Linked DNA regions of Homo sapiens: all the other regions are linked to region 1. The links come from fine-mapping of genetic effects on gene expression. A gene starts in region 1. Each other region holds a variant in brackets. All regions are shown on one strand. Distances are between the middles of the regions.

Region 1 (4,385 bases):
CTAGAGGAGGCTCAGTACTTAAGTAGGTCCCATTTGATAGATGAGGAAACTGAGGCTCAGTCGTCCATGGCTTGTCAAAGGTCACCAGCTAGTGAGCACAGAACCAGGTTAGCCCAGGTGGTACAGCTTCAGAGCTCACATGCGTAACTTGTTACATTATTCCTACTCAGGAAGTGGAAACCCCAGGAACAGATGGCTGATTGGAGGAGGGACCAGCATAAGGAAAGGGGCAGGATTCAGGGGTGGGAGGGGAAGTCGATATCTGTTTTGGATGCATGTCAGCACCAGCGTGGGAGTAGGCAGTGAGCTGTTGAAAATTCTGGAGTTCAGAAATAACCGTGTCTTGCAAATCCAGATGCAGAGGTCACTGCTTGAAGGTGGCAGTTTGCACCTTGGATATGAAGGAAATTGCTAAGAAGAAAGCAGTGAGAAGATGAGGGCACCAAAATTCAAGAAATGGCAGGGAAGGATCTGTGTATGGAGGGAGGAGGAGGTCAGAGGTGGCTGGAGCCCCAGGATGAAATAGGCAATGTTAGATATCGGCCACCTGTTGACAAGGGTCCCAGACTCAGCATCCTCTGAGTGGGTCTTCTCCCTCCCCTCTGCAGCCTGCCTTGCTTCACTGTTGCAAGCTTCCTAGTAAACCAGTCTTCTCCCTGCTATAATTTTATATTGCTTGTTGAAACGATATTCCAACAAGTAACATAAATATTTTTGATATACTAGGCTAAATAAAACATATTTAAAAATTAATGTCACCTATTTATCTTCATTTTTCTAATGTGGTCACTAGAAATTTACAAGTGCACTTGTGGCTCCCATGATGTTCCTATTGGTTGGTGCTGTGCTCCCACAGTGCAACGACTTCAATCTCGCCAAGACCTCTGGCTTGAGTTAAGCCAGGAAAACAGATACCACTCTAGACATCTCAAGCATGAAAGAATATAGCTCCAGGGAAGGCCAAGTCCTCACGAAGGGATGCAGAGCTCGGTGGTAAAGAGCACCGTTTTCTAAGAATTTGCTTTCAACAAAAATTGGGAACGCCCAATCAAGTTATTCGCTGACACAAATTAAAAGAGATTGATACATCAGTATGTGATTTTGGCATTTAAGTCCAAAGAATTGAATGACATTGCTACTCCTCCTTCACACGGGTGCCTCCGAGGGTCCCCGCTAAGGCCTCTCCCTCTCCACCCTATGGGCAGCTGACCTGCCGGGGGCCTCACCTGCTGGAGGAGCAACTGCAGGAGAAGCACCTGTTAGGGGCCGCACCTGGCCGGAGGGGCTCCTGCGGGGGAAGCACCTGCCCAGGGTGCACCTACCGTGTGCAGGCTGCGGACCACCCGGACAGGTGCCCCCTCGGCAGGGAGGGCGGTCACGGGGGCCGGCCAGGTCGGGGTGGGGTCCTCCCGGGGATCCAGACACGGCCCTGTGGCCTCTCCCCGCCCCAAGCCTTTCCTTTCTCTCCCCCTCTCTCTCTTCCTCTCCTTCCTCCTTCCCACAACACCGCCCGCTCGCAGCGCCCCGCCCTCTCCTGGACCGCGCACTCCCTCCGCGGAGGCCCCAGGACGCGCACGAGCGCGCAGTGGACGTCGGCGCGCGGACCGGGCATGGGTTCCCCAGCTGTGGCGCCCCGCGTGCGCGTTCCGTAGTGCCCGGTAGGGCACTGGGCTTAGCTGCTCGAGGCCGCGCCCTAAGAGGCGGGGCATAGACAGGAAGAAGACTGGCGGGCATGTGGGCGGGGCATGATCTGGAGGCGGGGCGGGCCGGGCGTGTGGGCGAGGCCCGAGGCTCGCGGCGCCCCAGCTCTCGCGAGAGCGGCGCCTGATGACGACCGGGAGGGCGGGGCCCGTCTGGGGCGCCGGCGGGTGCGTTTGAATCTGGTCCGAGCGCGGGAAACGGCGGGTCCCCGAGCCCAGGTAAGAGCTGCGGTGCCGAGCCGGGATTGGGTTCAGAGCAGGGGCTGGGAAGTAGCAGGGATCGGGCGGGAAGCCCCTCCTCGGCTGGTCGGGGTCCCAGCCTCCCCTCCCCTAAGGAGGCGGCCGACCTGCGTGCGGGCAGTGCTGCCTCTGACGGAACTGGACGGAACTGGCGACCCCGGGCCATCCCCCCTACCCAGCTCAGCGACGCCCGTCCTTCTTGTCCGTGTCGGAGGAAAATCCCAGCCCCGGGCGCGGGCACTGCCCTCAGAGAGCGACCCCCCAGCCCTGAGCATGGGCACCGTCCTCAGAGAGTGTCCCCTCAGTCCTGGGCATGGGCACTGCCCTCAGAGAGCGACCTCCTCTGTCCTGGGCATGGGAACTGCCCTCAGAGAGTGTCCCCTCAGTCCTGGGCATGGGCACTACCCTCAGAGAGCGACCCCCTCAGTCCTGAGCATGGGCACTGCCCTCAGAGAGCGTCCCCTCAGTCCTGGGCATGGGCACTACCCTCAGAGAGCGACCCCCTCAGTCCTGAGCATGGGCACTGCCCTCAGAGAGCGACCCCCTCAGTCCTGGGCATGGGCACTGCCCTCAGAGAGCGTCCCCTCAGTCCTGGGCATGGGCACTACCCTCAGAGAGCGACCCCCTCAGTCCTGAGCATGGGCACTGCCCTCAGAGAGCGTCCCCTCAGTCCTGGGCATGGGCACTGCCCTCAGAGAGCGACCCCCTCTGTCCTGGGCATGGGAACTGCCCTCAGAGAGAGTCCCCTCAGTCCTGGGTGTCGGTACTGCCCTTAGAGAGAGTCCCCCTGAGCCCTGGGTGTAGGCACTGCCCTCAGAGAGTATCTCCCCAGCTGTGGACGTGGGCATTGTCCTCAGAGACATCAGTCTCCTGAACTCTTGTTGCTGGTTTGGTGCCTCTTGTTGTGTCCATGAGGAAGGAGTTTGGGGACGGAGTGGGAAGTCACAGGTGGTGAGAAGGTAACAGGGATTTCTTCTTTTTAATGCTCATCTTGATTTAGTACCAGACCTCCTGTGCGAAGAGTAACCTGCTCTTCGGACTGATAACTGGATGGTGAGATGACTCCTTACCTTGAAAGTAGCATTCTGGCTGCAGGGCTGAGGTCTTATGCACATATGGTACAAGAAACATGGAATATTGCCACTTTGGGAGATAGATTGAAAAATTAACCATTAAAAAATTACAGTCACTAATATAAGAGGGAAAATGGGAAATATAGGAATAAGTTTGGTAGTCTAGAGGAAGTGTATTACTGTAAGTTGGACTAACATGCCAAAGAGGTACACTTGGAAATAGAGCAAACAAGAAAAGTGACCAGAACTATGAAAAAGTGGAGAGTGTTCACAGACTTGCCGGGCGAAGATGTATGATTCCATGTGTTTGCTGCACCTTATTGGATTATTTTTCTAAAATCATGAATTTGTCCTAGCCACTATTCATTATGCTTGTTACTGGCCACTCTCCCTTCCCTCCCCATTTTCTTTGTCAGTGAAAAATGTGCCAGTCATGCTTGATTTAAAGAGGGAGACACGTTGTCGTTAGGCAATTTCATCATTGCATGAACATCACAGAGTGGACTTGCCTACACCTAGAGGTGTAGCCTACACACATAGGCTGTATGGTGTAGCCTACTGCTCCTAGAATGTTACTGTACTGAATACTGTAGGCAACTGTAATACAATGGCAAGTATTTGCATCGCTAAACATATCTAAGCATAGAAAAAGCACAGTAAAAATATGGCATTATAATCTTATGGGACCACGGTCATACATGTGGTCTGTTGTTGACTGAAATGTTATGTGGTCCATGACCGTAGTTCATAGTTCAGCCATTTGAGTTGAGGAATGAGATGACCAGACTTCACTGTTAACTTATTTCGGGAGTCATTAAACTGAGGTTATTTTTGCTTTGTTCAATTTGGACATTAAAATCTAGTATTATATGTTTAAGATGACTCTCTGTCCCCATAATTATTGGCAATAATTTTCCATATTGCTCTATTTATAATGGTGCAGGTGGTTTTCATTTATTTTTAAAGTGAGGGGGCTCCTACTGCAAATGTGTTCCATCATTTGCTATTACCTCATCTTTAGGTTGATGTTTTTTCAGTAGGGCACCAGTAGCACCAGGTATTGTGAATGCGAAATAGAATTTCCTGGAAAAACACAGGCAGGATGGAGGGTATACAAAGTCCCCTGAGCTCTCATTATCCCGAAGGGGTGGGAGGAGGGTGCTGTGGTTGAGCATGCCTAATGCATAGTCTAACAAGATCCCAGGTGACCCCCGGGGCCACTGTTTTCCATCTCACTTTGAATAACAAGATGACACTAACAGTGGGATTTTTTTGATGGAGGAATGGCCTTTAGAAAGGGAGCATCTTCAGAATCTGCAGCTGGGATCAGATTGTTCTTTTGTTGAATCAACTCAGCTCTGCCGAGCCAGCA
Region 2 (4,385 bases), 25 kb after region 1:
ATTCAGGAATCTCCCCTTTTCCATTTTATCCTGAAGGTCAGAGGTTTAAACGAGTCTTTTTTTGAGGTTATGTGGCTGTTGGCAGAATAGCAGAAACTAGAACCCAAACCATTTTATAGCCCAAGGCCATTAATCTTTTTATTTCAGCCGTAGATTCTTTCTTGTGATTGACTGCATTTACTACTGTCCTATATCCATTGAAGTTACTCCTGCTGAAGAATTGTCATGACATGTGGATGCCAGCCAGAGCCTACTTGTGGTGGAGAGAACAATTCTCCCTGTTGCTCTTTCCAAATGCCATTTTATTTTATTTATTTATTTTTTTGTTAATGCCTTCCTTTTCCTTTTTTTGGTCCTTAGGTTCTGAGTTACTTTCACCATCAAAAGAAAGTTCGGCAGGGAGTGGAAGAGATGCTTTATAGATTATATAAGCCCATCCTTTGGAGAGGATTAAAGGTATACATTTCAAATAGTTTATCCGTGTTTGGAATGTACTACTTGTGCTTTTGAATTTAGCAAACTCTAAGTCCAAATTACAATAAAATAGTAAAGATAAGGCTGAAGACTGAATGCTTTCTGAAATTTTTGAACAAATGTTTTTTTCTTTTATTAAAAGCATTTCTTGGTTTCATTTAACTGGAAATCTGGATTGGTTTAGTGCTAACTACACAGTTATTTTTAAGTAACCATGTTTAGGGAAGGAGATTAGAGGCATGCCGTAAAGCAAACCAGCTGAGGCTGTGGGTGGTTTGCCGCGCTGGCCTGGGCTGTCCAGGGCTGTCCAGATCCTTGAGATCTAACAAACACACAATAACTTTCAGTGCAGACAACCTGGTATCTTTAGTGAGGATGTGGGGTGACCACTTCTTAGTGACATGAAGTGGGCTTTGAAGTGAGGAAGCTTTATCTTTTCATAGTATCTGTTGACATTGAACTGAGCAATGTTTGGTCAATTTAAACGTTATAATTGTCTGTAATTTGAAAATAAATCTGTATCAAGATAATTAAAGTGTTACTTTGGGAACACTGTACTTAAGCCTTCGTATGTTAACTCTTTGGGATTCTGAGATACTCTTCTTTTATTATTATAGGCCAGAAACTCTGAAGTTCGATCAAATGCTGCATTGTTGTTTGTTGAAGCATTTCCTATTAGGGATCCAAACCTTCATGCTATTGAAATGGATAGTGAAATCCAGAAACAGTTTGAAGAGCTCTATGTACGTACTTCAGGTGGTCAAGCTTCTTACAGATATCAGCTTTGTCCAGGCTGTGGCATGTACTGCTTGTGTGTGTCCCCACCTCCCCTGTAACCGCCAGAGCTCTGCTCCCACATGGCATGGTTTCTAAACCTGGACTGTTCTTCAGAGAGATGCCACTTCTCCCTGGGGCCTTCTATAACAGCGTGGACCTGTGGTGTCTTTTTCTACTTTTGGGACATTTAATTATTTATTACTATGTGTGGTTTTAAACATTTTATGCATATGCCTGTTGTTTCCCCAATGGAGAGGTGGTGTCATATGGTGGGTAAAGCACATGCTCTGGTGTCAGCCCCCTGCTCTCTGGGGTCAGAGTCCACCACTCTCACTTAATAGGTATGTGGCTTTGGGCAAGTCACTTAACTTCTCTGTGTCTTTCTCTGTAAGTGTGATTGCGATATTGCCTATCCTAAAGGTGTTGGGTAGCATAATGAGCAAACACTGGTTATATTTCAGGGCAAGCCTACAAATAATGCCTGTGGCAGGTGATTTTTCAGATGAGGTGCTAGGATGTTAAGATGCGGCATTTATTTCCAAGGAGTATTGTGGATTCTTTTCATCTACTTAGTCTGTATTTCCTAACACAGCTTACTTAAGCAGTGCATACTATCTACTGTCCTAAGTAGTAAAGTTTTAGGAAACAATGACAACAAAGTGCTGTTGTAATGCTGTTGCCTGTGGTGCTTCTGAAGTGCTCCCTTTTTTCTTTTTCTTTTCTAACTTATGGAAAACCTGACATGCAGAAAGTTAAAGTAATAGT[A/G]TAATAGGCCTGCACAGTGGCTTACGCCTGTAATCCCAGCGCTGTGGGAGGGCAAGGTAGGAGGACTATTTGAGGCCAGGAATTTGAGACCAGTCTGGGCAACATAGTGAGACCTCGTCTCTACAAAAAGTTAAAAACAACAACAACAACAAACAAAAAAACAGCCCGGTGTGGTGGCACACGCCTGTGGTCCCAGCTACTTGGGAGGCTTCAGCCCAGGAGGTCAAGTCTACAGTGAGCCATGATCACACAACTGCACCCCAGCCTGGGTGACAGAGTGAGACCCTGTCTCAAAAAATAAAAAGAAAAAAAAGTGTAATAAATATCTGTATACTTCTTCAAGCACACACACACATCCCTAAATGAAGTCATTAGTATTTTGCTGTGTACATTATGTATATTTATCTACAATTCCTTTTTTTTTTTTTAAAGATTCCTTATTTTTAAATTTTATTTTATTTTATTTTATTTTAGAGACAGAGTCGTGCTCTGTCTCCCAGCCTGGAGTCCAGTGGCGTGATCATCACTCACTGCAGCCTCAAATGGGAGGATCGCTTGAACCCAGGAGGTCAAGGCTACAGTGAACCATGATTATACTACTGCACTCCAGCCTGGGCGATAGAGCGAGACCCTGACTCTTATTTTAAAAAAAGAAAAAAATTTTGTGGACAACAAAATTTTAATCTCATGTAATTTTCACATGCCATAAAATGTTAATTTGTTCATTTTTTCCAACCATTAAGAAATATGAACCATTCTTAGCACTGTGGGCTGTGTAGGAGCAGGTACCAGCTGGGTCTGGCCTGCGGCATTGTTCACCAAAGCTGGCTGAGAGCTCCTGTCCCTGGTGCTGCACCTCTTGAGGCTTTAACTCAACCTTTAGATGGAAATTAGGCTCTATCATGAGGAGACAAAGGAGGTGATCTGATAAATAAGTAAGAGCAGTGGTTATTTCCTGTATCCTCTGTGTACCTTAACTGTTCTCTCATGCTTTTTGCTTTATTGGTATTTCTTAAACCTGAGTAATATGGAGAACCTTTTTTTTTTTTTTAAAATAAAAAAGGGTCTAGGTGCAGTGGTTCACGCCTGTAATCCCAACACTTTGAGAGGCCGAGGAAGAAGGATTGCTTGAGCAATCCTGGGCAACATGGCGAAACCCCATCTATACCAATTAAAAAAAAAATCAGCTGGGCACTGTGGTGCATGCCTATAGTCTCAGCTACTAGGGAGGCTGAGGTGGGAGGATCACTTGAGGCTGGAAGGTCAAGGCTGCAGTGAGCTGACATTGTGCCACTATACTCCAGCCTGGGTGACAGAGCAAGACCCTGTTTCAAAAAAGAAAAGGATTCTTTGAATGTTTTTAAATGAAGGGATGCGACAGAAACAGCATTGCAAGTCATGTGCTGTCATTTTGAGTGCTTCTCTGGTGATGGTGTAATTGCAAACAGGTCTGGACACTGAATCCAGAGAGGATGTGGTTGTAAGGTGATTGTCTGGAATATATTTTTATTATTTTTAAAGATTATTATTGAAAGTAATTAATAGAAAACAAAATGTATAAAAACTTCTGAATCCCAAGGACAGGCCTTCAGATTCCTAAAGTTCTTTTCTGTTTTTTTTTTTTTTTTTTTTTTTGCTTTATTTTTATCATCTTTTTTTCTTCCTATTTGCTTTTTCTTAAATGACTGGTCATCTTTTCCATTCTTATGTTTGGATAAAGGATTGGGTTGGTAAGGTAGTTAGCAGGTGTTCTTCTCTAGTTGTGTAGAGTCATGTCTCAGGTTTGCCTAAATGGGCAGAGTGCAACAGCAGGAGGACTTCCCTTAGTTTCTGTGGAGGAAGAGCAGGCAGGCAGGTGACCCCTCGGTACCCAAGTACAAAGGGCCCTTTCCTTCTGGGTGGCATTGCTCTTCCTTCTTTTGCTTTTCTGGAGGCTTAGAGTTATTGCTGGCTCTTTTTTTGTTCTTCTTTGTCTGTTGCCCAGTATCTCTTCCTGGCAGATGACACACGTGGTTTAGAAACCATTTGTAAGACTTTATCCTGGGGAGCACATCCTTGCCCCTGAACTCCTGCTGGCCTGTATGCCTCATCAGGGGTTGTTTGCAGCCCTTGCCACAAACTCTTCTCTGTAACCTGGGCTCTGGGTTCGGGGCTGATGTGAGCTCTCTGAGGTCACAGCCTCCTGTCTTTAGAGCACCCTTACCTAGGAATGTCTAGGTTACAACCTTTTATGCTCTTTTCTCCATGAATCTATTCCTTATTCCCTCTCTTACAGAAATTTCTCAGTCTTTTTGTTTCTATTATTGCTAATAGAAATTGATCATTTTGGTCAAATTTTGGGGAAGAGATGGGGTAAATGCTTAATTTTA
Region 3 (4,000 bases), 220 kb before region 1:
TCGTGAAACAGGAGGATAGGAAGTCCATGACTGGCGAGAACTTCAGTCAAAGAACTGGACCGCACCGCTGGCAGGCGCCAAGTCAATGTGGAAAGCAGCACCCGGCCAACCCCAGCCACACACACACCACAAACACCTATCAGCCCCTCAGTTCACATCCTGCTACCCACACCATCCATGCTTGGGTCACAACGTCCCCTCCAATTCCAGGGAACCCTCCTTCCACCTCGTCACAATCGCTCATAGCTGCAGCCTTCTGGGGCCACTTCCACCAGCAAGCGTCAGGTCTTCTTCCAGCTGCCGTATTTAATAGTTGTTTTTAGTGGGATGAGGTTCTCGAGTGCTGTGACCTGACCCCGTTTTCTCCTAAGCCCTGTGGTTTTTATTGGCAGTCTTCCACGGTGTAGCGATTTTTAGGAACGTGTACCTCCTGTTACAGCGGAACTATGATATGGCAACCAACGCCTGACCCATCGCTGCCCCGACCTCACCTCCCACTGTCCACCGTGGTCTCCTCGCTTCTACCCAAGACACAGGTGTGCCCACCGCTCAGACCTGTGTGCGTGCAGCGCCTCCTCCAGAAGCTCCCATCTCCCTGTGGCCCGTCTCTCATCTCCGTCCGGTTTTCACTCACAGTGAGGCCTCCTCTATCAGAACTGTCTTTATTTTTCTCCTTAGAACTTACCCCTCTCTGATAGACTGTGTGTTGACCTGTTTAGCCAGTGCAGAGCCTACTTGACCCAGCGAAACACAAGTTCAGGAGGGCAGAGTTGCTGTCGTCCTACTCACTGCTGAACTGCAGCTCCCCGACAGTGCCCAGGGCATAGCACCCGCTACAGAACATTTGTCAAGATGAACGACCTGCTGGCTGCGTCATTCTGCCGCGTGTTTTAATAGAGATGAGGACGACCCGCTGGCTGTGTCATTCTGCCGCGTGTTTTAATAGTGATGAGGGTACTGGGTGGACCCTAGGAAGGCTGAAGTATCTCTACATCTGATCACAGATCAGAATCTAATGTGAGTCAAATTCTGGATTCGCAGGGTGAGACAACCCACACACTCCGTCTCATGCCTCTCTTGCAGTCTCATATTCCTTCTGCTATCTCAATATTCATTTTACCAGAACACAAAACTAAGCAAACAAGACCCTCCACTCCTTGAACATGTGGGAAGTGCAACACACACACACTTCACGAGTTCCCCAACGGAGGCCACACACTGCAGTACACACATGCACTTCACGTGTTCCCCGACAGAGGCCACGCACTGAAGTACACACATACACTTCACGAGTTCCCCAACAGAGGCCACACACTTCAGTACACACACACACTTCATGTGTTCCCTGATGGAGGCCTGGCGCTGCAGTATGCACACATACTTCACGTGTTCCCAGATGGAGGCCACACACTGTGGTACACACACGCACTTCACGTGTTCCCCGACGGAGGCCACACGCTGTGGTACACACACACACTTCATGTGTTCCCTGATGGAGGCCCGGCGCTGCAGTATGCACACACACTTCACGTGTTCCCCGATGGAGGCCACACGCTGTGGTACACACACACACTTCATGTGTTCCCTGATGGAGGCCCGGCGCTGCAGTATGCGCACACACTTCACGTGTTCCCCGACGGAGGCCACATGCTGTGGTACACACACACACTTCACATGTTCTCTGACGGAGGCCACACGCTGTGGTACACACACACACTTCACGTGTTCCCCGACGGAGGCCCGGCGCTGCCATACACACACACACTTCACGTGTTCCCCGTTGGAGGCCACACGCTGTGGTACACACACACACTTCACGTGTTCTCCGACGGAGGCCACAGCGCTGCAGTACACACACACACTTCACGTGTTCTCCGACGGAGGCCATGGCACCACTGCCGCTCTCATGCATCTGCTGTCACTGCTCAGTGTCGGCTCCCTGGGGGCGGCGCACACTCGGTTCCCTTCTTGGTGTCTGCTGGGTGTGGGAGTGTGGATGCCAATGTGTTGAATGATACAGGTACAGAGATTTATTATTTTTCTAACAGGAAAAGACAAAACCCTCTCAAAGAATGTGAAGACTTGTTAAATTAACAATGCCATTTTTGTTAACGTTAAAAGACAGAGAAATGTAAATAAACTGAAATCTCTAAATAGCAGGCAGGACGGAAGAAATGCCTGGAACAGTGGCACCAACTGCTCTGGTCTCACACGTGCCCCGAAGCACGTTTACCCTGCAGCACACCCGCACCTGCTACCAAGCAGACGGCCACACGGAC[C/G]ACCTCTGCTGGTTCTCCACAAAAACCGGGACCATGGCTGCCCTCCGGTACCCGACAGCCACTTTTTCAGAGACAAAGAGGTTACTAGCTCAAGAAATTTCAGTTTGGTCTTGCAAATGCAGTTTGTCTGAACTGATTAAACAGTTACATGCAACTGTACTTTCTGTTTGAGATCCTGGGCTTTGCTTCCCGTTTTATGTTCCATAACCACGGATTGACCTAAAAATCTAAGTCTATCTACACTAAATGTTAAGCGTCTTGCTTGTAACTATATCTAAACTATTAACACAACTTTGATCTGAACACTCTCTCATGCTCGTCCAACTATTTCTACTACTCTATCTCAAGAAAAGAAACTGAATAACTGGAAGAGAAAAGAAAACAGGATTTCAAACACATAGAAAATCTCAGTTCCCATTCATTCAAACAATCTCACATGTTTAAATTACTGTGGATCCCTCTTCTATTCATCTTACTAAAATCCTTAATCACAAATTTAACATGCACACTTAAGAGGGAAAAACCACTCACTTTTGAATTCTGCAGAAACTCAGTCTTTCTCAGTTTTATGTACATTAAACCCCATCACATTAAAATAAAATATTATACTACAGAGTATTATTTCAACATGAATGTTTAGTCACTGGATTTAAAATCATATTTGAGAACAGCCTCTTACTTTGAAGGAATGGTAGACTGGTGTTCAGCTGAGATGAGCTGTCACTAAAATACAGGGCCCTGTCTTGAGCCCTAAGATTCCAGCTGGGTTCAGCTGCCAAGCGATCCTCTTCCAGCAAAACGGCCATCACCTGTCAGACATAAGTGAGTAGTCTTTAATAAAAACTTCACAATGGATTATCTTTTCCAAAAAAAAATTACCTTTTCATCTTATCCATATCTGCAAATAACTGCTTAGATCCATGACGCTATCATAACTACAAGAAAAACGATACGGTCCTTTCTGCTCAATACTGAAAACTAATACAGTAAGATTAACTAAAACTCCACAGGAGAATCATCATTTGCCCTGAATGTTGTTTTTCACACCACATACACTGCTAAAAATCACAGTGGGAGAAAGGGGGCTGGGTATCCAGCATTCATAAATGAACAAAGCAGTGTAAAGAGCAGTCATGAACCCACCGAGTCTCTCTCACTGGGTTTTGGTAAAAAGCCAGAGTGAGTGGTAAAACACTGTCATTGTTCCAGGAGGGTCATCCTTAGGATTTGACAGGGCAGAAAGAGAAGATTGGGAGACAAAACAGGATTGATGGAAAAAGAACTGGAAATGTTCCTGAGAACTAACACAAGGAAAGTGAGGAAGGCAGAGAGTGTTGAATGAGAAGCAACAGGATTTGTGCGAGGAAGAGGGAGCTGCGTAGTGAGAATGGAGGCCAGGAAGTGTTCATTGGGAACTGACATGACCCGGGAACACTCAGGGTCAGGACGGCCGGGAATACTGAGTGAGAAGTGACAGAATATGGGAGGGCGGGAGGCAGGAAATGTTGAGTGAGAGCTGACTGTGTGAGAGTGAGGAAGGCAGAAACAGACAGTGAAAGCCAACCGTATGGGAGTGAGGAAGGCAGAGAATGTTTCATGTGAACTGACAGAACGGGAGAGTGAGAGACAGGAAATGTTGAGTGAGAATTGATAGGATTCGTGTGAGAAAGGGAATGTGTAGTGAGGACTGACAGGATGGGTGTGAAGAAGGAAGAAAATGT
Region 4 (4,385 bases), 27 kb before region 1:
TAGATTGGAGTGAGTAGACAGGATATTGCATTAAAAATTGAAAGCTCGATCTCATTATTGTCAGGAACCCCCAGTGTGACCTCACACATAGGATGTGGGACCTTTGAGCCGATGTGCACTGGCCACCACCAGGGTTGGGGGCGCCACAGCTGCGAGCCCGGCCCCTGCTGTTCTCAGCAGCCACTTCCCAGGCTGCCTCACTTTATGCCATGACTGACCTTAATATTGGGATATTGTTATGCAATTTTTATCCTGTTTAGACTGTTAAAAGCAGGTTTCTGTACTTAAGAGTCCCCCAGACCTCCTGTGAGGTGAGGCTCTGTTGCAGTGTCGTAGGCTGTGTGTGTCTGTAAAGAAAGAATGCACATATGTAGACGATTAAGTGTATATTATAAGCTATATGCTGAAAATGGCTTCCATAGCCATGAGAACATCTTAAAACTATGTGTAAATATATTAAGGAAAGTATAGCTTTGTAATTTAAATTGGAGCTTTTAGCTTGTTTCATGGAACTATACAACTTGTGGGTAACTCACATGACCAAACAAACCAAAGTGCCTGTGACGGGGCGGGTGGCGTCTACCCACCCTCCCTTCTAGCAGATTCTTATTTTGTTTGAATTTATAAACAAGGCTGGTGGCTGTCTACCCACCCTCCCTTCTAGCAGATTTTGATTTTGTTTCAATTTATAACTTACACTTTGAACCATGGGTTTACTTATAATGGAGTCTGTAGCTTCACAGCATATTTCATGTAATCATAAAGACCAGTATATTCCCTCCTGCTGAATGACATGCGACTGTAAAGCCTCTTTATAAACCATTTCCAATGTTAGTATATAGGATTATTTGGGAAGCGTATCAATACCTTTATAGACAAATACGAACATGTATGCACACAAAACATTTAACTATGGTATTTATGGAAGACAGGTAACAACATTAAATCTAGTTGCTTTCCCTTAGTATTAGATTTGTTGAGGGTTTTTTAAAAATCAGGTCTGTTGAAAGTCTTCTGTCATAATCTATAAAGCAGCAGCACTCATGGAAATTGTAGCATGCCAGTAATTTTTACCAACATCCCATACATCTGAGTTCTGCAGTCCAGTGTGTAATCCGCTCCATGTGTATTTTGCTTAATGGAATGCTTTATTTAAGCACTTAGGCAGAGTAGACACAATTAAAGGTACAAAGCCCAGAGGAAGTGGTAGAGCAGCACCGTGCCTGCCCTGAGGCAGTGGAGTCAGTAGCGCTGTCCCCAGGGCCTTGAGTGCCTGGAGGTGCTTGGCCTCCAGTAGCTGCCTCCATTCTCTTTTAAAAAAAGGGGGTGATTCTGAGGCACTGAAGTGCCTCCCAGATGTGGAGGAGTGAAGCCACCATCGAGGCCACACTCAGCACTCCAGGATCCCAGCGATGTCAGACACTCTTGAGTTGTCAAAACGTTAATTTTCAGTTTTAAATAATCAGTTTATCTAAGAAAAGGGAATTTTAACTTTTCTACCTTGAGCCAAGCCAATGAAGGGAAAATTAATTAACTTAGTAAATTTGAAGTGCAGCTCTGTTAGCTCGTACATGTGGGTTCTTATCCTGATCCTGTGCCTTAAAGTAGGAAGGTGTTTCCAAGTTCAGATTAAAATAGAAGCAGCTGGCCGGGTGCGGTGGCTCACGCCTGTAATCCCAGCACTTTGGGAGGCCGAGGCGGGCGGATGACCTGAGGTCAGGAGTTCAAGACCAGCCTGGCCAACATGGAGAAACCCCATCTTTACTAAAAATACAAAAATTAGCCGGGCGTGGTGGTGGAGCGCACGCCTGTAGTCCCAGCTACTCGGGAGGCTGAGGCAGGAGAATTGCTTGAACCCAGGAGGCGGAGGTTGCAGTGAGCCAAGATCGCACCACTGCACTCCAGCCTGGGCAACAGAGTGAGACTCCGTCTCAAAAAATAAATAAAATAGAAGCAGCCTTGTAACTGTATTTACCATGATAATATATTCTGCACGGTAAGAATTCCTTTTACAGACATTCTTTATCAAGAGGTCGGCCCTTCTTTTTCAGGCACATAAGCCAAATGCAGGCCTGTGTGTAGCTGTGTGTTTTTTCTGTGGTTGCCGCATTTATTCCACCTCCAGCTGGACCCCCCACTGCAAATAGAGAACAGCGGTGGGGGATGGGGGTTAAAAAGTAGAGAACCTCCTTTCTGTTCAACTAATTTCACGTGACAGTGCATGTATTTATTCAATAAAACCTTTATGTTAGCTCAGTCGTGATTTGTTTTTCTCTGTCTTTTGAAGGGAGGTGTTCAGTGTGCAGTCAGATAATTTGAAAGGAGACGTCGTGCACTGTTTCATTTGCTGTCTGCACTCGCGTTTTCCCAGCAGCTACGTCAGAGCAGCTGAC[A/G]TCCTTCCTGTTGTTCCCAGCTCAGTTTGACTCTCCTCTGCCCAGCACATTACACTCCACATGTCAAAAACAGCTCTTCTAAAGGATAATCATACGTAGAAAAAATAAACTTTAAATGTGTTTTTAACTAGGGCTCTGAGAAGTGCAGCGGGGACTGCCGAGACACCTGAACATTGGAACACTGAGGGTGATACTGGAGTATCCCTTCCTGTTGCGTTCATTACTGGTGGTCTGGATCGACTTGAGTGGAGCCCTTGCGCTTTTCCTCGTAGCCGCTCGGCATTTCACACCAGGCACTTCCTTTCTCCTTGACTGTGGGCCTTTGACACCGGGCACTTCCTTTCTCCTTGACTGTGGGCCATCCTTCTTGGCCTCTGTAGCGCCTTCCTCTGTATTTTCCTTGCACATTTTTGGCCATTTTCCAACACTGTCTTCACCTTCAACCAGACTCAATAATTGGCATAATGTGGGTTTTGGTTCTGATCACTTTTTATTTTTATGTGGTGTTCTTAATACCATCAATACCCTGGTTTCCAGATGTATGTCACTGATACAGATGTTGTCTGAGCTCAGGACCAGTTCATCCCACTGCATCCCCGTCCTCTGTGTCACATGGACACCTCAAGGCACACCCTTTGTCCATCTGTCTGTCCATCATCCGTCTTGGTGCTGGAGCTGAGACCTGGACAGCACCAGCCACCTCCCACTGCCTCAGCCCATGTGCAGACACCAAGTCCTTGAGCTCTAACTGGAGAATGTAGCCACCTCAACTCTGTCCCCTCAGTCCAAGCCACCGTCCCTCTCCATTTCTCAATCTTTCTCCCCTGCCTGCTCCATTTTCCATACAACAGGAGAATCTTTCAGACACAGATCACTCCCACTCAGCTGTGTTCCACTGTTCAAGAGCAAGAGCATTTCCTGACTTCTGCAGCTGAGTGTTTCTTCTTCCTCTGGGACCCTCACCCACTGTACCTCAATCAATGCCTCTCAGTTCCACAGACGGCCCCTACACATTCCCACTCAACACCCCCAGGCATGCTCCTCCCCGCAAGCACCTCCACACCTGCTCGGAACTCCCCAACATCTCCACACTGCTCCCCCGAGCACCTCCACACTTGCTCCTCCCCCCCAGCACCTCCACACTTGCTCCTCCCCCCCCAGCACCTCCACACTTGCTCCTCCCCCCCAGCACCTCCACACTTGCCCCTCTCCCCAGCACCTCCATACCTGCTCCAACGCCCCCACCTCCACACTTGCTCCTCCCCGCCAGCACATCCTCACTTGCCCCTCTTCCACAGCACCTCCACACCTGCTCCAACCCTCCCGCCTCCACGCTTGCTCCTCCCCCACTATCTCCACACCTGCTCCTCCCCCCAGCACCTCCACGCTTGCTCCTCCCCCACTATCTCCACACCTGCTCCTCCCCCCAGCACCTCCACATTTGCTCCAGTCCCAACCTCCACCTTGCTCCTCCCCCCAGCACCTCCACGCTTGCGCCAAGCCCCCCACCTCCACGCTTGCACATCCACACTTGCTTCTCCCAACACCTCCACGCTTGCTCTTCCCCCACTATCTCCACACCTGCTCCTCCCCCCAGCACCTCCACATTTGCTCCTCCCCCCCCACCTCCACGCTTGCTCTTCCCCCGCAGCACATCCACATTTGCTCCAATCCCCCCACCTCCACACTTGCTCCAACCTCCCCACCTCCATGCTTGCTCCTCCCCCCAGCACCTCCACGTCTGCCCCTCCCCTCCAGCACATCCACACCTGCTCCTGCCCCACCCACCTCCACACTTGCTCCTCTCCTCTCCTCTCCCCAGCACCTCCACGCGGGCTCTTACCATGACTGGCCCAGCTCACATCCACTCCCCGTAACTTCTCAGTTGAAAGCTGATCTCGGTGTCCTGTGAGTTTTCTTAGCATCATGTGTGTGTATGTGTTTTTTTTTTTTTTTTTTTTTGAGACAGGTTCTTACTCTGTTGCCCAGGCT
Region 5 (4,385 bases), 110 kb after region 1:
GCCAGACACCTCTGCACCCACACCCTGAATAATAGCCAGTCACCTCCCCGCTGAGTGGGCTGGCTGCCCTCCCAGCTAGGGTTAGGAGGCCTCAGAAGTGCTGGCTTCAGGCTAATAGAATCCACAAATGGAGAATTCGGTGAATTGGGATGGCAAGAATGGGACCTTGAACTCTGGAGTGAGACCGAGTGGATTTGAACCCTGAACCCAGCACTTACTGGCTGTGGGGGTCTTGGGAAGATGATTTAGACCTCAGCCTTGGTCTCCTCATGTGTGGAATGTGAATGAGAATGGCGCCTAACTATTGTCATAATCACTGGCACCTAGTCAGTGCTTTATGGAATTAGATATTTTTCTTATGACCAATGGCTGGACTGTTTATTAATAACAGTAAGACTGAGGCCTGCCGACTTACATAGGTCACCAAGTCTCTCAATGCAGGTGACTGAAAGGGTCTGGCAGCTGGGCCCACAAAAGACTTTATTGGAAGGTAGGGAGCCCCCAGAGTCAGGAAAAGATGCAGATGCAGACCTGAGCATGGGACTCAGGCCTCGGCACTCATTGGCAGTGACGCGGTTTGTATCTGTGTCCCCACTCAAATCTCATGTTGAATTACAATCCCCACTGTTGGAGGTGGGACCTGGTGGGAAGTGACTGGATCGTGCAGGTGGTTTATCATGGTTTAACACCATCCCCCTTGGTGTGGTCTTGGCAGCAGTGAGTTCTTGTGAGATCTGGTTGTTTTAAAGTGTGTGGCACCTCCCCGTCTCTCTTTTCCTCCTGCTCCAGCCACGTAAGACGTGCCTGCTCCCCCTTCATCTCCCACCATGATTATAAGTTTCCCGAGGCCTCCCCAGAAGCACAGGCCACCTTGCTTCCTGTATAGCCTGAGGAACTGCTGGTCAATTAAACCTCTTTTCTTTGTAGATTACCCAGTCTCGGGTATTTCTTTATAGCAGTGTGAGAACGAACTAATACAGGTAGGCCCGGGTGCTGCTGCAGGCCTGAGGCAGCTCTGGTCATCTCCTCCTGTGTCACTCCATGCATGACTCACATCCTAGGGAGAGAGCATTTGCTGGCCTGCATATGCCATGAGCCTTTACCAGGTGGCCTGTCCTGAGGGAAAAGGGTTCAAGGGCAGAAGTCCCACAGATAAAAATGGCAGTGCTGTTTGCCTAAATGGGAAAGGGGATGTGCAGACAGAAGCATCACCACCACTGACACTTCCATCACCACCAGCTCCACCTCTGTTACAACTTCGCCACCATCACCATAACCACCATCACCACCTCTACCACCACCTCCACCACCACCAGCGTCACCACCACTAACACCTCCACCTCCATCATCACCAGCTCCACCTCCACCACCATGACCACCATTATCACCATCTCTACCACCACTAGCTTCATCACCACTAACACCTCCACTTCCACCTCCACCACCACCACTGTATTAGTCCATTCTCGCACTGCCATAAACCCCTGAGACTGAGTAATTTATAAAGAAAAGAGGTTTAATTGGCTGATGGTTCTGTAGGCTGTACAGGAAACATGGCTGGAGAGGCCTCAGGAAATTTACAATTACGGTGGAAGGTGAAGGGGAAGCAGGCACATCTTACATGGCCAGAGCAGGAGGAAGAGAGAGAGAAGCAGGAGGTGCTACACACTTTTAAACAACCAGATCTTGTGAGAACTCTATCATGAGAACAGCACCAAAGGGGGAAATCTGCCCCCATGATTCAATTACCTCCCACCAGGCCCCACTTCCAACACTGGGGATTTCAATTCCACATAAGATTTGGGTGGGGACACAGATCCAAACCATATCAACCACCACGACCACTTCCATCACCACCAGCTCCACCACTACCACCATGACCATCTGTATCACCACCAGCTTCACCACCATTGCCATCACCATCTTTAACATCATCTCTACAACCACCCTCCAGCACCACCACAGTAACCACTACCATCACCGTATCAATCACCACTTTCTTCAACAACACATCCACTGTCAAAATCACCACCACCTTTCCCATCACCATCAGTACCACCATCAGGATTACTGTCAATATCAATACCACCACCACCAACACAATATCAATATCAGTACCACCACCACAACAGTCACCACCTTCATCAACACACCCACCATGGAAATCACCATCATCTCTACCATCATCACCACCAGCAATACTGCCAATGTCAATACCACCACCATCACAATCACCATCACCACTATTACCATCTCTATCACCACCTTCAGCAGCACCATAATAACCACAACTAACACTGCCAATATCAATACCACCACCACGACCTCCAGCATCACTTTTACTACCACCACCAATACC[C/A]TACATAGTCACCATGATTACCACCGTCACCCCAACCACCATTGTTGCCACCCCATCACTGCCACCATGATCACCACCATCCCACCACCAACACTGACACCTTCAACATCAACACCACTGTAACAATCACTCCTACCATCACCTCCACTTCCACCACCACCACTACCGACACCAACACTAACACCACCCAAGATGGACGGTCCAGACTTCCACTCCCCTTTTTGTTGTCTGCTGACTGGCAAAATATTGATAATACAGTAACATGCTAAGGCCAATTCTTCAGACATTTGGGGTCTAGGAGCAATATTTTTAAAACCACCTTTGCAAAGATTATAACTGAGACAATTATTACAGCGAAAGAGATTTGACCTAACTGACTCCATCTTGTTTCTAACCTCCAAGCTGTCCTTGTTCATTCCTGGCCGTAGGCCAGACTAACTCTAGGAGGAACTTAGTTTATGGTTTAGCTTTGAAACAGAGATGATAACAGTCCTTTCCCAAAACAAACCCCCTTCCTGCCTGGGGACTAACAAATTAGCCACAAGATTAGAATTATGATTTAGGAGTCATGCAGCTGGAGGCTGCAAGATTCTAAACCTCCCCACGTTGCTCCTGGGAATAACATCACTGTTGTAAAATCTGGGATCAGTGCTTGAGATATTGCAGACCCTGAATTCTGATGTACCAGCTGACACCTCCCAGACTGGTATTTGTCTCAACCAGTTCTGCGATCCCACCCAGGAACAGAAGACAGCAAGAAAACCCCACTTCAACCCCCTCTGATTCCATCTCCAACCCGACCAATCAACACTCCCCACTTCCCGAGCCTCTACTCACCAAATTATCCTTAAAAACTCTGATCCTCAAGTTTTCAGGGAGACTGATTTGAATAATAAAACTCCAGTCTTCCGCACACAAGCTCTGCGTAAATTACTCTTTCTCTACTGCAATTATGCTGTCTTGGTAATTTGGCAGTGGGCAAGGTGAACCCCTTGGGCTGTTCCATTTGGGGGGGTGCAGCTTCCGATTCCCCACCCTGCAATTGCACCCTGGAGTCAGTGACACTTGGTACTGAACAGAAGTGTCACCCTTTTGAGGCAGGACGTTTCCCGCAGGGAAGAGGTGTCCACAACAGGACAAGACACCAAGGAGTGATGGACCTTCCTGACTCCTCTCCGCTAAGCAGAGGGAAGCTTTGTGGGGCACTCTTCTCTGAAGCGGCAGGGGCAGGAATGACTTGCTCTTGCCCTGTAGATTGGGCTCAGTCAACATCATAAGCAGAAGACTGAGCTACCGTCTCCATGGGCTGACATCCACTTTCCATCACACAGACTGGGATTAGGTGACTCACTGCATTTGCCATTCAACTAGACCTGGGTTGTGTTTAAATGGTGAAAAATGGCCAATTAAAAGTGGCCAATCTGGCAGTTTTGACTGTTCTAATAAGTCATTCAAATTTCATCATGGTTGGCCAGAACCACTATGTCATTTAGCAAGAGCCAAAATGTTTGTCTAGCATGAGTAACTTTGAGTGTATTCATTAGTACATGTTCAGGCACCTTTGTTCTTGAGCATGGAGTGTGTGGAAGTTGCATCTGCACTTGCCCTAAAACCTCACCTGAAGTCCATCCCTCTCATGAAGCCATTCCTGATCAAGCGGAGACTCAGCATCTCCCACAGAGAATGTTAAATGGGAAGATCAGAGCCCCAGCCTTCAACCTGAAGAGGAGAATGCCACGCAGGAGCCGGTCAGTCCTGTCCACGTGATGTGGGCCTTTGGGATTCAAACAAAGCCTGCTGCGCCCCACTGCACCCCAGGGTTCTCATGCCAGCCCTCTCAAGATTGTTTCTTAGAATCAGAGGCCCAGCCACCCCATTTGAAACACTTTCTGGTCCTCGTTAAGGACTGGTCAGCTCTGATGTAACCCAGAGCACTGACTGACACAAAACCATTGGATTGGCCAACAGTTTCACCTTTGTCACCAGTGGGCAACGTTCACGTTCACGATCACGGAGCTGGTGCAGC
Region 6 (4,385 bases), 36 kb after region 1:
TATAATGTTCTTGACTTCATTATTATTTGGTACCATTGTGAACTTTCTCCACACAGTAGCTTCTCAGAAATTTACTTTGAGTGCTGTTCTGCTATGGCACAGGATCCAGAAACAGACTGATAACGCCAGAGTGTAGGGTCAGCCAGACAGATTTGTGTATTCATAAGAGAAGTGGTGCCGTGTGGCCATGAAAAGAACAAGGAGGAACTTTTTGTCGGGCTTCCTTGGAAAGGCCTCTAAGATATGGAAGTATAAAAGCATAGTGTAGATGTGGTCCTGGTGTGCTACCAGCTGAATAAAATGGAGACATATATATAAGTAAATATTGCTCAGATATGGGTAAAATATCCTTTGAAGAGAACGAGAATTTAGTGTCAGTTGCTTAGGGTGATGAGGTGAGGGGGAGACAGGGTCCCACTCTGATGCCCAGGCTAGAGTGCTGGGGTGTGATCTTGGTTCACTGCAACCTCAAGCCATCATCCCTCCTGAGCCTCCCAAGTGGCTAGGACCACAGGAGTGTGCCACCATGTCTGGCTGATTTTTGTAGTTTTTGTAGGGATGAGGTTTCCCCATGTTGCCCAGGCTGGTCTCAAACTCCTGGGCTCAAGCGATCTGCCCACCTTGGCCTCCCAAAGTGCTGGGATTACAGGTGTGAGCCACCGTGCCCAGCCAATGATGGGGATCTTGTCACTGAATGTAGTACATATTACGTTGTGTGTTTTGAGTTTTGATCTGTGAATTTTTTTATATTAGAAGAAAACAAAGGATATTTTGAGTGACCAATGTAGTATTAACACCCAATGTCATATGCAATTGAGTTACTTTGATGCTTTTGTTGAAAATCATTGACCATGTGTGTGGTCCTTTTCTGGACTCTGTCCTGTTGTGTTGATCCGTTTATTCTGTGTGGATCTTACAGTAAGTCTTGCAGTGTGCATTCTCCAGCTTTGCTGTTCTTCCAGAATTCTTTGGCTACTTCAGGTCTTTTGCATTTCATATAAACTTTAGAGTAACAGCCGGGTGAGGTGGCTAACACCTGTAATCCCAGCACTTTGGGAAGCTGAGGTGGGAGGATCACTTAAGCTCAGAAGTGTGAGACCAGCCTGGGCAACATAGTGAGACCTTATCTCTTAAAAAAATGTAGAGTAAGCATGTCAATTTTTTTTTTTTTTTTTTTTTTTTTTTTGAGACAGAGTCTCGCTCTGTCACCCAGGCTGGGGTGCAATGGCACAATCTTGCCTTACTGCAACCTCCGCCTCCCAGCTTCAAGTGATTCTCCTGCCTCAGCCTCCTGAGTAGCTGGGACTACAGGCACGTGCCACCATGCCCGGCGAATTTTTTTTTTTTAAATTTTAGTAGAGATGGGGTTTCACCATGTTGGCCAGGCTGGTCTCGAACTCCTGACCTCAGGGGATCCACCTGTTTTGGCCTCCCAAAGTGCTGGGATTATGGGCGTGAGCCACTGCGCCCGGCCAAGCATGTCAATTTCAATAAAAATACTGGCTGCAATTTTGATGGCATTTTTTAAAACAGCCTGTTAAAACTGTAGTTCTGTGCTTTTACACTGTTGGTGGGAGTGTAAATTAGTTCAACCATTGTGGAAGACAGTGTGGCAATTCTTCAGAGACCTAGAGGCAGAAATACCATTTGACCCAGGAATCCCATTACTGGGTATATACCTAAAGGAATATAAATCATTTTATTATAAAGATATATGTTTGCGTATGTTCATTGAAGCACTATTCACAATAGCAAAGACATGGAACCAACCTAAATGCCCTTCGATGATAGACTGGATAAAGAAAATGTGGTACATATATACTATGGAATACTATGCCGCCATAAAAAGGAACGAGATCATGTTCTTTGCAGGGAATGGATGGAGCTGGAAGCTATTATCCTCAGCAAACAAACGCAGGAACAGAAAACAAAATACCGCATGTTCTCACTTATAAATGAGAGCTAAATGATGAGAACACGTGGACACATGGTGGGGAACAACACATACTGGGGCCTGTTGGAGGGTGGAGGGTAGGAGAAGGGAGAGCATCAGGAATAATGGCTAATGGATGCTGGGCTTGATACCTAGGTAATGGGATGATCTGTGCAGCAAACCACCATGGCACATGTCTACCAATTTAACAAACCTGCACATCCTGCATTTGTACCCCTGAACTTAAAAGTTGGACCAAAAAACCCAGAAAACAAAGTAGACTTTAAGGCAATTATTGGAGAAAACTTTTTGTGAATATTTTTACTTTTTTTGTTTTAATTTTTTATTTTGAATTTTCAAACATATATAAAAGCAGAGAGACTAATATAGTGAATTAGATACACCCATCACCCAGCTTCAACAATTATTGCTATGTCCGATCTTGTTTTATCTAAACTGTATCCAGGCCACACTGCCGGACTATTTTGAAATAAATTCCAGACATCA[T/C]ATTGTTTTCTTTGTATTTCAGAATGTATCTCTAAAAGATAAGCACTTAAAACCACTCTACCATTATTTTATAAAAAAAGAATAACTCTTCAGTAAAACAAAACAGAAAACAGTAATAGGTAAGGAGGGCGGAGGGACCCAGTAGTGGGTAAGGAGGGCGGAGGGACCCAGTTGTGGGTAAGGGAGGGCGGAGGGACCCAGTAGTGGGTAAGGGAGGGCCTAGGGACACAAGGTAGGTAAGGAGGGCAGAGGGACCCAGTAGTGGGTAAGGAGGGCAGAGGGACCCAGTAGTGGGTAAGGGGGGGCGGAGGGACCCAGGGTCGGTAAGGAAGGCGGAGGGACCCAGTAGTGGGTAAGAGGGTGGAGGGCCAGAGGGTAGGTAAGGAGGGCGGAGGGACCCAGTAGTGGGTAAGGAGGGCGGAGGGACCCAGTAGTGGGTAAGGAGGGCGGAGGGACCCAGTAGTGGGTAAGGGAGGGCGGAGGGACCCAGTAGTGGGTAAGGAGGGCGGAGGGACCCAGTAGTGGGTAAGGAAGGCGGAGGGACCCAGTAGTGGGTAAGAGGGTGGAGGGCCAGAGGGTAGGTAAGGAGGGCGGAGGGACCCAGTAGTGGGTAAGGAGGGCGGAGGGACCCAGTAGTGGGTAAGGAGGGCGGAGGGACCCAGTAGTGGGTAAGGGAGGGCGGAGGGACCCAGTAGTGGGTAAGGAGGGCGGAGGGACCCAGTAGTGGGTAAGGGAGGGCGGAGGGACCCAGTAGTGGGTAAGGGAGGGCGGAGGGCCACAGGGTAGGTAAGGAGGGCGGAGGGACCCAGTAGTGGGTAAGGCGGGCGGAGGGACCCAGTAGTGGGTAAGGAAGGCGGAGGGACCCAGTAGTGGGTAAGAGGGTGGAGGGCCACAGGGTAGGTAAGGAGGGCGGAGGGACCCAGTAGTGGGTAAGGGAGGGCGGAGGGACCCAGTAGTGGGTAAGCGGGTGGAGGGCCACAGGGTAGGTAAGGAGGGCGGAGGGACCCAGTAGTGGGTAAGGCGGGCGGAGGGACCCAGTAGTGGGTAAGGCGGGCGGAGGGACCCAGTAGTGGGTAAGGAGGGCGGAGGGACCCAGTAGTGGGTAAGGAGGGCGGAGGGACCCAGTAGTGGGTAAGGGGGGGCGGAGGGATCCGGTAGTGGCTAAGGAGCGGAGGGACACAGTAGCGGAGGGACACAGTAGCGGCTAAGGGTGGAGGAGGGACACAGGGTCTCTGAGGGAGGCGGAGGGACACAGGGTCTCTGGCCCACCAGGAAGTTTGGGCGCCAGAGCAGAGGAAGAAGGCAGAACGTTTGCGTTTCAGTCCTTATCTTTGCAAGTGCAAGGCAGACAGCCATTTGGTTGTGAGGTGTCTGGAAAGGTTTGTGACGAGCATGCAAGCTAATTTCCCTTGAAAGTTAAGGTTACAGAATGACATGAGTATAAGAGGCAGTCTGGCTGGCCAGAGGACAGCTGTTGGAGCTGACGGGAGGGCATTGTCTATGGGCAGGAACAACCTGGCACATGAAGCCAGGCTGCCGGGCCTGGCGTGCACACCTCAGTAATGGGTGTGCTGGCCCAGTGGAGGGTCTTGTACATGCAGCTCTAGAAGGATTGAGAGTTATACTTTCTCTTTGTTTCCTTTGTCAGCTGTGGTAGGCCTGGGCTGCTGGGCTGAGCCCAGTGGGCCAGGAGATGTCAACCCTCTCCCTTCAATGCATTGTCTTCTTTTTATTTTATTTATTTATTTTTTTTTGAGACAGGGTTTCCCTGTGTTGCCCAGGGTGGCGTCAAAATCCTGGCCTCAAGCGATCCTCCTGCCTTGGTCTCCTGAGTTGCTGGGACTACAGGCGGGAGCCACTGTGCCCAGCCAATAAGTCTACTTCTATTTCTTCAGCAGTGTGTGGCCCGTGCAGCTCTGATCTGTGCATTTGTGTGATAATGAAA
Region 7 (4,385 bases), 67 kb before region 1:
ATTTTGTCTACAAAGAAACAAGCCTGTGTGCACCTGATTCAATAATTGGAAATTGTTTGGAACTTAATATTTTGCCCTTGTTTTAAAACAGCTTTTAGAAATTAACTGGACAGGACTGACGAATCTTCTGGATGTCCCTGGATTGAAGTAAGTCTCGTGTCTGGTCCCGGAGGCTTAGCGTTCGAGGGCGTGTTGTGCATTTTGGATGTCTTGACAATAGTGTGAGAATGGTTAAGACCTGCGTCTGCCAGGTGAATGGGTGCCTTCTCCACAGGCTGTCGTGAGAAACAAGCAGAGGGTACAGGGGCTTTGTTCTGCCTGCCGGGAGCTGCTGGGAGGCGATGGGCCAGGGCGGGAGGGCTCTGGAGTGCCAGCTGAGGACGCAGTCTTCATTTGCGTTTGTTCACCACAAGGTGTCTTCCTGGCCTTGGCATGTTCGAAAAGTAGAGGTCTTTTAATATTTTGTAAAAACAGTTTGCAAATTTTTTTTTTTAATCTTCTCAGAAACAATAAAGGAAACTTTAAAAGGAAATGCTTTCCAGGGTCTCTCCAGCCTATGGCTACCCCACCCTTTCTGCCTTTTTTTTTTTTTTAACTTTTATTCCATTCCTTTTTGAAATGGGTTGGGGACAGTGTGGACTTCTGGACTTCGCCAGAACTCTTGAGTGTGAGAGGTGAGGAACTTGAAGTTCCGTATCATTTCACTGGGAGTCCCTTCATTATTCCGTAGTGATCTAGTGTCTAAAACAGGAGAAAAATGTTCCATAACAAGCATCTGAGGCCCTGGAGGGTGCATCCCTGCTTAGAGACAAGGAGTCATTCTAGTTGCCGTGGTGCCATTACCTGAAACAGTGCGTGGGGCTGTGGGTGGCAGACCTGTTGGTCACCTCCAAATAGGAAGTTTTGAAATTACAGCCTCTAAATGCTTTTGCTGGCTTTACCGTTTTATTTGAAAGTTAAAACATATCACCTGTGGGTTAAAGTTATATGTTTCTAGTGGATATTTTCTAGTGTGATTTGTTTTCCCTAAAATAGTTTAGAAAATTATGAAACTTGGTTTCAGACTATTTTTTTATTCTCATATATTTGTTTATGCCTCTGAAATGGCCTTTCTAAAGAGTTTTGTTTCATTATTAGGGAAAAATTAGGACTTTAATTATCTGAAGCACAGTCATCATGAAAGTCCTTTTTAGGTGCTGTGGTTTACTGGATGCAGAAAAATGCTGTGATCTTTAAAAGATCTGCGGAAAGAAAGCACAACTTTAAAAGATTGGTTAAAGAGTTCATTAAGATTCTGGTTGCAAGCAACAAACCTGACTTAAGTGGTCTTAAGTAGGTAAATAAGTAAGTTTCTTTTTTTTTTTTTGAGATGGAATCTCACTCTGTTGCCCAGGCTGGAGTGCAGTGTTACAGTCTCAGCTCACTGCAAGCACCACCTCCCAGGTTCAAGCAATTCTCCCTGCCTCAGCCTCCCAAGTAGCTGGGATTACAGGTGCGCGCCACCACACCTGGCTAATTTTTGTATTTTTTTAGTAGAGATGGGGTTTCGCCATGTTGGCCAGGCTGGTCTTGAACTCCTGAGCTCAGGTGATCTGCCTGCCTCGGCCTCCCAAAGTGCTGGGATTACAGGCATGAGACACCGCACCCGGCCAGTAAATAATATTTTCAAAAAGCAGTTTATTCACTCTTCCAACAATGGGCGCCCACTGCCTGCTCTGAGCTAGCTGCAGCCGCTCGTGCATGGGACACAGCTGTGCTTGTTTCCTGCTCGGCAGCTGGAAAGCTGGCGTGTC[T/G]TCTGAGGGACTTCAGATGGAGCCGGTGTTGGGCACCATAAGGGCTCTCTCGCCAGCTCCCCACCCATGCAGGGTGGGCGTGTCCCTCGTGGGCTTGTTTTCAGGCAGTCTCTTGCTGTGCCTGCAGCTACAAGCATTTAGTCTGCGGACTTAGTCGCCTTTCCCGCTAGGTCCCCGCCCAACTTGTGTGTGCAAGGGCCACCCTTGGACAGATTCCTGCGACTCCGATGATCAGGTTTCAATCTCACATACACCCCTACAGAAGGCAAAGAAATGGAAATTCCAGTGAATGGGGGCATCCCCCAAAGCAAAAACTTTCTCTAGAAATAGGGGGAGGAGATACTGTTTAGCCAAATGGAACAAACATCCACACACATCAGTGTAGAAAAAAGTATTTGATTTTGCCTCCCTTCAGTATCATAGGAGGACTGAAATAAAACAGCATTATTGAACATCTACTCTGTAAACAACGTTGTATTAATACTGGCAACCTGAAAGGGCAGTCAGAGAATGTGTTCTGCCCCGGCAAGCCTACAGTTTGGGGAAGTTGATCCCCTGATTCATTTTATTTAAAAGTCATTCACACATACACACGTAAATACAGAGATAAATATACATGTATAGCTCCATTCTATTTAATAATTTTTATGTAGGCTCTTTTTATACAGTAGTCATTTCTAGCTATTTTATTTTTATTTTTCATTTTGTTTTCAGAGATAGATCTCACTCTGTTTCTCAGGCTGGTGTCAACCCCCTGGGCTCAAGGGATCTTCCTGCCTCAGCCTCCCAAGTAGCTGAACTATAGACTTGTACCACTGCATCCAGCTTCTCTTGTTTTATATGTAGATTTTATATATGTAATACAAAAATATAATCATAAGGCCAGGGGCGGTGGCTCACGCCTGTAATCCCAGCACTTTGGGAGGCCGAGGCAGGTGGATCATGAGGTCAGGAGATCGAGACCATCCTGGCTAACACAGTGAAACCCTGTCTCTACTGAAAATACAAAAAAATTAGCCGGGCATGGTGGCAGGCGCCTGTAGTCCCAGCTACTCGGGAGGCTGAGGCAGGAGAATGGCGTGAACCCAGGAGGCGGAGCTTGCACTGAGCAAAGATCGCGCCACTGCACTCCAGCCTGGGCGACAGAGTGAGACTCCGTCTCAGGAAAAAAAATATATATATATATAATCGTATATGTATAATTATGTCATTAAAAATATATACTTACCTAACAGATAAATACACAAACACCATTCAAAAAACAGGCTGTTGTATAAAAGGGAAATGTAAAAATATCTTTTCTAAGTTTATATATATAGGTATATATAATTTATGCACAATTATGTAGATTTTATATAATAAATTATGTTTACATAAATGTTATGTACTAAAATTTAATAGATATGTACGTAAAATTGGGGCTACTAGTTGTCAGTCTTTCTATCAGATAAATTACAGCTATGGCAACCCTTAGGTTATAAAAGTGAATATTAAATAACTATGAGGCTGAACGCGGTGGCTCATACCTGTAATCCCAGCACTTTGGGAGGCTGAGGCGGGTGGATCGCCTGAGGTCGGGAGTTTGAGACCAACCTAGCCAACATAGTGAAATCCCATCTCTACTAAAAATACAAAAATTAGTTGGGCGTGGGCACACACCTGTAATCCCAGCTACTCGGGAGGTGGAGGTTGCAGTGAGCCAGGATCATGCCATAGCACTCCAGCCTGGGCAACAGAATGAGACTCTGTCTCAAAAAAAATAAATTAATTAAAAAAATAAATAAATAAATAACCATGAACTTAACATAATGAAATCTTGTCCCAAGCTTTATAAAATGAGCATCCACATGTTATATTAATTGATTACAAAAAGAAACCCCAGACATTATAGAGTAAGAATAATGCCTGAATTCCTTCACTACACCATAACTTTGGGCTATCCCTATTAAATATCCATTGTGTTTTAATAAGCGGCTCTAAGCTGAGTGTTGAAGTCGTAAGAAGGGTGAAAATTATGATTAAATATCCGTTATGTTTTGATAAGCGTCTCTAAGCTGAGTGTTGAAGGTTTAAGAAGGGTGAAGATTATGGTGGAAACAAAATACGGGTGATGAGTAGTCGTGGTTCCGAAGGACACACAGGGAAATAGTGACTCCCAAGAAAGTAACCACTTCAATAGACGCTTCTGTGGAGACCTAGGGGAGCAGCATCCACATCCACAGTTCGGGGACATGCAGGGTGTAGTGGGGTGAGGAGGCGCAGTGAGGGGAGCCCCGCCAGGGAGCTCCGTCAGAGCTGCTGTGGCCTCCGAGGCCAGGAGTCTGTGTGTGAGAAAGGTGGGTGGGTCCTGCCTCTGCGTGGTGAACACACAGCCAGTGTCTGCTGGCTGAAGCCCTCCGAATCTCTGTGGAAGTATTAACTGTCTGAATAACTGACCTGTTCATAAGTAGAGTAGTGTTACATATGGTTTTTCTTTTGGGGATTTAAAAAATTTTTTCCCATATTAAACTGAAAAGTCCTTGAGGTGCTGGGTCATCACACGTGGATACTGTCTTGCAGTGGGTGGTTGGGCATTATTTGTTGAACGCTGAC

What was found. PIP is the estimated chance that this variant, and not a neighbour inherited with it, causes the effect.
Region 2: its variant is fine-mapped to the expression of NCAPG2 in whole blood (TOPMed, PIP above 0.99). The same link has a PIP of 0.9 or more in blood mononuclear cells, hippocampus, lung and nasal epithelium.
Region 3: its variant is fine-mapped to the expression of NCAPG2 in whole blood (TOPMed, PIP above 0.99).
Region 4: its variant is fine-mapped to the expression of NCAPG2 in whole blood (INTERVAL, PIP above 0.99).
Region 5: its variant is fine-mapped to the expression of NCAPG2 in whole blood (TOPMed, PIP above 0.99).
Region 6: its variant is fine-mapped to the expression of NCAPG2 in whole blood (TOPMed, PIP above 0.99). The same link has a PIP of 0.9 or more in blood mononuclear cells.
Region 7: its variant is fine-mapped to the expression of NCAPG2 in whole blood (TOPMed, PIP above 0.99).

What each region holds. Positions count from the first base shown.
Region 1 is chr7:158,702,258-158,706,642 of GRCh38, reverse strand. NCAPG2 (non-SMC condensin II complex subunit G2) reads left to right here and starts at 1,839. Exons shown (of 28, transcript NM_017760.7): 1 at 1,839-1,919. RefSeq lists silencers at 1,183-1,462, 1,583-1,672, 1,823-1,922 and an enhancer at 2,500-3,078.
Region 2 is chr7:158,676,792-158,681,176 of GRCh38, reverse strand. NCAPG2 (non-SMC condensin II complex subunit G2) reads left to right here. Exons shown (of 28, transcript NM_017760.7): 10 at 361-456; 11 at 1,092-1,217. Among named protein-coding and RNA genes, the nearest start is that of NCAPG2, 26 kb to the left of the region's middle. The variant A/G (reference allele first, on the strand shown) is at 2,017.
Region 3 is chr7:158,917,828-158,921,827 of GRCh38, reverse strand. DYNC2I1 (dynein 2 intermediate chain 1) reads right to left here. Exons shown (of 25, transcript NM_018051.5): 15 at 2,959-3,088. Among named protein-coding and RNA genes, the nearest start is that of DYNC2I1, 63 kb to the right of the region's middle. The variant C/G (reference allele first, on the strand shown) is at 2,280.
Region 4 is chr7:158,728,868-158,733,252 of GRCh38, reverse strand. It overlaps ESYT2 (extended synaptotagmin 2), which reads left to right. Exons shown (of 23, transcript NM_001367773.1): 23 at 1-2,256. Among named protein-coding and RNA genes, the nearest start is that of NCAPG2, 26 kb to the right of the region's middle. The variant A/G (reference allele first, on the strand shown) is at 2,394.
Region 5 is chr7:158,592,164-158,596,548 of GRCh38, reverse strand. No RefSeq gene overlaps it. Among named protein-coding and RNA genes, the nearest start is that of MIR5707, 2.7 kb to the right of the region's middle. The variant C/A (reference allele first, on the strand shown) is at 2,360.
Region 6 is chr7:158,666,570-158,670,954 of GRCh38, reverse strand. The region is part of intron 13 of NCAPG2 (non-SMC condensin II complex subunit G2); the gene reads left to right. Among named protein-coding and RNA genes, the nearest start is that of NCAPG2, 36 kb to the left of the region's middle. The variant T/C (reference allele first, on the strand shown) is at 2,441.
Region 7 is chr7:158,769,103-158,773,487 of GRCh38, reverse strand. ESYT2 (extended synaptotagmin 2) reads left to right here. Exons shown (of 23, transcript NM_001367773.1): 7 at 92-147. Among named protein-coding and RNA genes, the nearest start is that of ESYT2, 58 kb to the left of the region's middle. The variant T/G (reference allele first, on the strand shown) is at 1,794.